Linked DNA regions of Homo sapiens. The protein of the gene in region 2 interacts with the protein of the main gene of each other region in a pairwise test. Each region holds a gene or a part of one and is shown on either strand. Other genes may lie near its edges.

Evidence for each region.
Region 1: the proteins of ENAH (region 2) and XIRP1 interact in a two-hybrid assay, tested with the Homo sapiens proteins (one study listed by BioGRID).

The regions. Positions count from the first base shown.
Region 1 is NC_000003.12:39,182,459-39,186,216, reverse strand, and holds the end of XIRP1 (xin actin-binding repeat-containing protein 1), read left to right. Parts: coding exon 1-2,303; 3' UTR 2,304-3,002; downstream 3,003-3,758. UniProt on the Homo sapiens protein: Protects actin filaments from depolymerization. Required for correct cardiac intercalated disk ultrastructure via maintenance of cell-cell adhesion stability, and as a result maintains cardiac organ morphology, conductance and heart beat rhythm.
Region 2 is NC_000001.11:225,646,534-225,650,350, reverse strand, and holds part of ENAH (protein enabled homolog), read left to right. Parts: intron 1-3,817. UniProt on the Homo sapiens protein: Ena/VASP proteins are actin-associated proteins involved in a range of processes dependent on cytoskeleton remodeling and cell polarity such as axon guidance and lamellipodial and filopodial dynamics in migrating cells.

The DNA.
Region 1 (3,758 bases), on a different chromosome or scaffold from region 2:
AGCAGGGCCCCACCCCAACAGCCACTTCCAACCCCATCCAGGACGGTCTTCGGAAAGCTGGGGCTACCCAAAGCAACATAAGGCCTGGGGGTGGAAGTGATCCCCGGATCCCAGCAGCCCCCAGAAAGGTCAGTAGGGAAGAGCAAGCACTACCCAGAGGGCTGCCTGGGGGGTGGGTGACAATTCAGGATGGCATCTACACCGCTCATCCCGTGAGGACCTTTGACCCACCTGGGGGTGTCCAGCTTTCTCAGAGGGAACCCCAGTCAAGGCACAGGGAGACTGCCCTCTCAGTCCAGGCTCCCCGCCCACTCCAGGGAGGCCCAGGTCAGAGTACTGGGCCAGGGCGGGAGGAGCCTGGGGGCTGCACACAGATGGCCTGGGGGCCACCAGGGAAGGCGATGGCAGAAGTCTGCCCAGGGGGCCTCCAAGCTGCAGAGACCACCCTGAAGACTGCCCCTCTAGGCCGCCACATTCTGGCCTCTGGGCCCCAAGCTGCAGGTGCCAGCCCGCACCCCCATAATGCCTTTGTTCCTCCTCCTCCTACTCTCCCAGCTGCTGTGACAGGACCTGACTTTCCAGCTGGAGCCCACCGTGCTGAGGACTCCATCCAGCAAGCCTCTGAGCCCCTGAAGGACCCCCTTCTTCACTCCCACAGCAGCCCTGCTGGCCAGAGAACCCCTGGAGGGTCACAGACAAAGACCCCAAAACTGGACCCCACCATGCCCCCAAAGAAGAAGCCGCAGCTGCCCCCTAAACCTGCACACCTAACCCAGAGCCACCCTCCTCAGAGGCTGCCCAAGCCCTTGCCTCTATCTCCCAGCTTTTCCTCGGAGGTGGGGCAAAGAGAACACCAACGAGGTGAGAGAGATACAGCCATCCCTCAGCCAGCCAAGGTTCCCACTACTGTAGACCAGGGCCACATACCTCTGGCCAGATGTCCCAGTGGACATAGCCAGCCCAGCTTACAACATGGCCTCAGCACCACGGCCCCCAGGCCCACCAAGAATCAGGCTACAGGCAGCAATGCCCAGAGCTCTGAGCCCCCCAAGCTCAATGCCCTCAACCATGATCCCACCTCACCACAGTGGGGCCCCGGCCCCTCAGGAGAGCAGCCCATGGAAGGTTCCCACCAAGGGGCCCCTGAGAGCCCTGACAGTCTGCAAAGAAACCAGAAAGAGCTCCAGGGCCTCCTGAACCAGGTGCAAGCCCTGGAGAAGGAGGCCGCAAGCAGTGTGGACGTGCAGGCCCTGCGGAGGCTCTTTGAGGCCGTGCCCCAGCTGGGAGGGGCTGCTCCTCAGGCTCCTGCTGCCCACCAAAAGCCCGAGGCCTCAGTGGAGCAGGCCTTTGGGGAGCTGACACGGGTCAGCACGGAAGTTGCTCAACTGAAGGAACAGACCTTGGCAAGGCTGCTGGACATTGAAGAGGCTGTGCACAAGGCACTCAGCTCCATGTCTAGCCTCCAGCCTGAGGCCAGTGCCAGAGGCCATTTCCAGGGACCTCCAAAAGACCACAGTGCCCACAAGATCAGTGTCACAGTCAGCAGTAGCGCCAGGCCCAGTGGCTCAGGCCAGGAGGTCGGAGGTCAAACTGCAGTCAAGAACCAAGCCAAGGTTGAATGCCACACTGAGGCCCAGAGTCAAGTCAAGATCAGAAATCACACAGAGGCCAGAGGTCACACAGCCTCAACTGCCCCTTCCACCAGGAGGCAGGAGACATCAAGAGAGTATTTGTGCCCTCCTCGGGTTTTACCTTCCAGCCGAGATTCTCCCTCCTCCCCAACATTTATCTCCATCCAGTCGGCCACAAGGAAGCCTCTAGAGACTCCCAGCTTTAAGGGCAACCCTGATGTCTCAGTGAAAAGCACACAACTGGCTCAGGACATAGGCCAGGCCCTGCTCCACCAGAAAGGTGTCCAAGACAAAACTGGGAAGAAGGACATCACCCAGTGCTCTGTGCAACCTGAACCTGCCCCTCCCTCAGCCAGTCCCCTGCCCAGAGGGTGGCAAAAGAGTGTTCTGGAGCTACAGACGGGGCCAGGGAGCTCACAACACTATGGAGCCATGAGAACCGTGACTGAACAGTATGAGGAGGTGGACCAGTTTGGGAACACAGTCCTCATGTCTTCCACCACAGTCACCGAGCAGGCAGAGCCACCCAGGAACCCAGGCTCCCACCTCGGGCTCCACGCCTCCCCCTTGCTGAGGCAGTTCCTGCACAGCCCAGCTGGGTTCAGCAGTGACCTGACAGAAGCTGAGACGGTGCAGGTGTCCTGCAGCTACTCCCAGCCAGCTGCCCAGTGAGGCCCACCGCCTCCCACCACACCTGCCACCTGTTCCTGGCCTCCACTGCCCCAGGACTGAAGTGGGTACCTGCCTCCTGTACACTGGAGCAAGGACCAAGAGGAAATGGCATCTTCAGAGGATTACTGTGGGCCATTTCCCTTTCGCAGTTCTTTCAATAGGCCCAGTTCTTCCAAATGGAAAAAGAAAGGTCTGGAAGAGGCCCACAGAGTTGCACAGGCGTGGGGGTAGGATGGGGGCTCCCAGCTGCTTGTGGAGGATGTAATATATACAGACACACACATGTTTTTCACACAGGCCTGGCCCACGCATCGACATGTGTGAATTTGCACACCACTGCCTGAATTGGAGCCCCCCAGAGTGTCCCTCTACCCAGAGTTTTTATTTCTTTAATTAGTCTGAGTGTTCCCAGCCATCTGCTCCTTAATCCCTGGAGAGGAACAGAGCCAACTGGACACAGCGTTGGTCTCTGTTTGGAATCACTGTGAGGTCTCCAGAAGGACCTGGCCGCCAGCCCCTTCATCACCATCTCCATCATTCAGCTGGTCATCTGGTGGCCCAAAGGTCACCCAAAGAGTCAGCAATCAGCATGTCCCTAGAAGCCAAATGCACTGCCTTTCTCTGTCCCCATGACTGTCCCCCACTCTGCACCCCAAATGGGAAGCATACGGTCTGAATAAATCCAAGTTTTATTCTCTACTCTGTGCATGTCTGACTGTGTGTACATCTGTTCCAGTATGTGTTCCTACTGCAGGGGGAGAAAACAGCCACAACCTCCAGGTGCCTCGTCTTCCTAGCAACAGCAGTGTGGGAAGGCTCTAAAAGCCACCCCTTCTCCACCATCTTGGCTGGCAACCAGAAATGCCCTGCCCACACTTCTATTCTCCTTGCCCCTATCCCCATCACACACACACACACACACACACACACACACACACACACACACACAGTGCTGCCCTCTCTATCTCGACCTCGCCTCCTGGATGTTCTTGAATACCATCCTGGAGGGGTTCTTAGAATCCTGCCCCAGAGCTGGAGAGCAGCCCAGTCAGGACTGGGAAGCAGGAGGAACTCACGCCAGGAGAATTCCTGTGCCCAAGATGGCTGGATCACTTCTGCCTGTTCAGCCCAGGTGTTGTGTGCCAAGCAGTGGTTCCTGAGAAATGAAGTGCTCAGATCCTGGCCTGGAAAGTCAGGTTGTTTTGGTGAAGGGCCCTTTTCATGCTGTCTTTCAAAAATCACTAAGCATCTTCTGTATTCCAGGCCTGTTCTAGGCAGTGGGGACACAGAGGTGAGGTCCAATGGGGTCCCGCTTTCAGGGAACTTTTTAGAATGAGGAGACAGAGAGACAATAAATAAGAAAAATTAGATCAGGAATAGGGTGACGCATCTGACTAGGCCACTCTCCCACTTTGGGATAAGAGTCTTAAAATATGGTCATATGACAATGGCAGG
Region 2 (3,817 bases):
AAGTGTAGAGAGAGAGGAACCACGCTGATGTTTTCCAGTAACGTAAATATAGAACTTGGTACACAGGTCTGAAAAGTTTATTTAAGCAGTCTACAGTAATTCTTCGTAGGCTAATTTTGAATAAGAGCAGGAAAGAGGGTCAGCTTTTCACTTTGGAAGGTACTGGATTATTTGGCAGGTGGTTAGGTAGTACTTAGATTTGCTTAGATACCTGTAAAAGTGAGATTGGTATGGGATAAAACGTTCTTGTGCTGCTTGCAAAAGTCTTTGGAATATTCTTTGGGATATTTTGGTGCTTAGGAAGTGCTTTTCAGGTTATATTAATATATGCTTAGTCTTCATGCTTTCAAGTCCTGTGGGACGTTAATGTTAGTCTTTTAAGTTGAGTCCTTTTTGGTTATATTAAGAGGTAGTTCTGATGTTTCAAAGGCCATCCAGAAATAGGAATGCCTGAACAGGAATTTCCAATTAAGTCGGTCAGAATCCTGAACAGAGGATATGATGAATATATTACGGTATAACTATTAGTGGTATCTGTCAGATGACTTTAATTTTAGGAATAGCATGATCACTGTGTATAATCTTATACAGAAGAGAACTGAATAATAGTTTATGTTCCTGAAACGGTCATAGGCATTTGAGTAAAATGCAGTATATAGATTTACTTGTTAATATTTTGCTTAAAGATGAATATTTAAAAAATGAAAAAGCATATTACTTATACAGGACAGTGGAAAGGTTGAGACCAAAAAGCTGGTACTTTTAGTGTCCTGTCTGTTTAGTTCTATTCTTATTTTTCATTTATGCAATGTTTCAAAAGTGTAAGATGCTTTGTGATTAAAGTGTGCGTGTATGTATGTGAATGCGTTTGTATGCATGTACATACAGTGTGTGCCTTTTAAGTGCATTTTTAAAATTAGTTGGTTTGTTACTTAAGATTTTTTTTTTTTTTTAACTGAAAGAGGAGCTTGTCTGATCTAAAATAGTTGCATGTAGCCTGGTGGCTAAGGAGAGCTCAGAAGATTTTGTATTTACATTCTTGGATCCGTATTAAAATAGTCCAGGCTTCCACTAGCTACTCTGACTTTCTCATATAAAAAGGTATAGTAGGGTTATGAGGATTTGTCCAAGCCATTTACTAGCTGGGTGACCTTGAAGTAATCACATTATTTCACTGATGCCTTTTTAAAAAATATGTAAAAATAGAGATAATTCTTAACTGAGTAGTGAGGATCAAATGATAATAGAAGGTACTTTATACACTGGTAAGCCTTAAATTTATGTTACTCCTCCTGTTTCCAGGCCTATTTCTATGTTAGACTATTTGGGTAAAACTTCTGGGCAGTGGGCTCCACCTTGCGACCTTATTTAGCTCAAGGATGTCAAAAAGACCACATTTTTATTATTTTATAGGTGAGGAAGCTGTTCCCTTCTTCTGTGTTTCCTTCCTTAGGGTCTTTGAAGTATCTTTATTTGTGGTAATCATAAATTTTATATACATTTCAGAGTGTGGTACAATCAAGGGTCAGAAGATCCAGGTTTTATATGCTGACCTGTTAATTGAGTAAACTGGTAAAAAAAAAAAAAAAAAAGGAGATAATCTTATATTTCACAGGATTGTTTTGTGAAGTGTCAAGTGAGATATCCATGAAAGGATACAAATAGTAGTCTCTTTGTTCCCATGGGTCTTCATTTATACTCGTAGCTGTTGGATGTGTGACTTTCCCACAGAGGTTTATTTTAGGAGCAAGAGCCAAATCTTCATTTTTTGAATGTCAGTATTGTAGGAATTTACTAAGTGAATAAATCTTGAAGAAGAGTGTGGATTAATAGAGAAAATTCACTAAAGTTTATTCAGTATTCAAGGTGTTGGATACCTTGTTGGCCCAGTTGGATTAAGCAAAATAACTATGGAGGCACCATTTGGCTGGTATAGAAGAAATTACATACTGAATAGGTTTTGGTGATTTATCTTACAGAAGGCTTAAAACAGGTGATTGTATAACTTGTAAAATATCTAGTCTGTATCATGAGTGTAAGAAAGATTTGAAAAAATGTGATTTCAATTTTTATATGGTTGTAGGGGAGTAAAAGGGTATTTAAACCCTACTTGTGCCAACTTAAAGTTGTCTTTTCCTCTTTTTTCTCCTCCTTGTTTGAAATTGATGAATGGAATTAAGTGGAAGTAAAAGTTAGAGAATATGAGCTGAGGCTGTACTTCAGTGGATGCTTCTTCAGATAAGGGTTTACGAAATTTTCCTGACTAGAAACAAGAAGGGGACTCCTTGTCAGACCTGGGATATAGTCCTTGACTTGCCCCTAACATGCTCCCCCAACCCCCTTGTCCCCCACTATTCCTGTGTGTTCCAGTGCACTTTACATGTTTTTTTGCTATTGAATTTATTCTGTCTTATAATTATGTGGTTCTTTTTGTCCCTCTTCATTGTAAGTTCCTTGAAGAGGATTTTTATATTCATGGTACTAGCAAAATACTAGCATTTTTATATTCATGGTACTAGCAAAATACTTGGCAAATAGTGGGTGGCCTGTGTAAGTGTTTGACTTTGACTGCGTTGCTCTTTTATAGAATCTGTTCACTAGCAACCCCATTTTTGGAATACCTGTAGTGTTCTAGAAGCTCTACTGGATATTGTAGGGTGTAGTGTAGTATTTGGTGGATACTAAATGTTAATAACATAATTTAATTAAGCAAGCAAAAACTCACATCCTGACTCCAGGAATAGGTGTAGAATTTGGTTTTCTTTTGTTCTTTTTTAAATTTTAATTTAATTTTTATTTTGTAGAGATGTGGTCTTGCTATGTGGACCAGGCAGGTTTTGAACTCACCTGGCCAGAATTTATTTCTTATTCTAACACAGAGCTTGGAAGTGGCTACAAGTGTCAGGATTGTCTAAATTCTAAGCCCTTTGGAGGATACCATGTTTACTTGACTTTATGATTAAATTCTGAATTACTGAAAGGGCCATCAATCTGTTTTTAAGTCTCTTTGACCAAAGAACTTGTAAATATTTTCAAGTAACAAGCATATGCATCTCTATTGGTTTAATTTATTTTTACCCCATTTAGTGCTTGCTTTGTTTTGATTCTTTTTTTGTTTTTGTTTTTTGAGATGGAGTCTCACTCTTGCCCAGGCTGGAGTGCAGTGGCATGATCTCCACTCACTGCAGCTTCCGCCTCCTGGGTTCAAGCAATTCTCTAGCCTCAGCCTCCCGAGTAGCTGAGACTACAGGCGCGTGCCACCACGCCCAGCTAATTTTTTGTATTTTTAGTAGAGATGGGGTTTCAACATGTTAGCCAGGATGGTCTTGATCTCCTGACCTCGTGATGCGCCCACCTCAGCCTCCCAAAGTGCTGGGATTATAGGCGTGAGTCACCGCCCCCAGCCCTGCTTTGTTTTGATTCTTATCAGTGCTTCAAATACCAATCACTGGGTAGTGTATGATACTCTTGAAGTATTAGTGTGGGCTGCCATAACAAAATACCATAGACTGGGTGGCTTAAACAACAGAAAATTATTTTTTATTTTTATTTATTAATTTTTTTGAGACAGTCTCACTGTGTCGCCCAGGCTGGATTGCAGCGGCTCGATCTCAGGTTACTGCAAGCTCTGCCTCCCGGGTTCACACCATTCTCCTGCCTCAGCCTCCTGAGCAGGTGGGACCACAGGCGCCTGCCACCACGCCTGGCTAATTTTTTTGTATTTTTTAGTTGAGATGGGGTTTCACTGTGTTAGCCAGGATGGTCTTGATCTCCTGACCTCGTGGGATTACAGGTGGGAGCCACAGCGCCCGGCCTA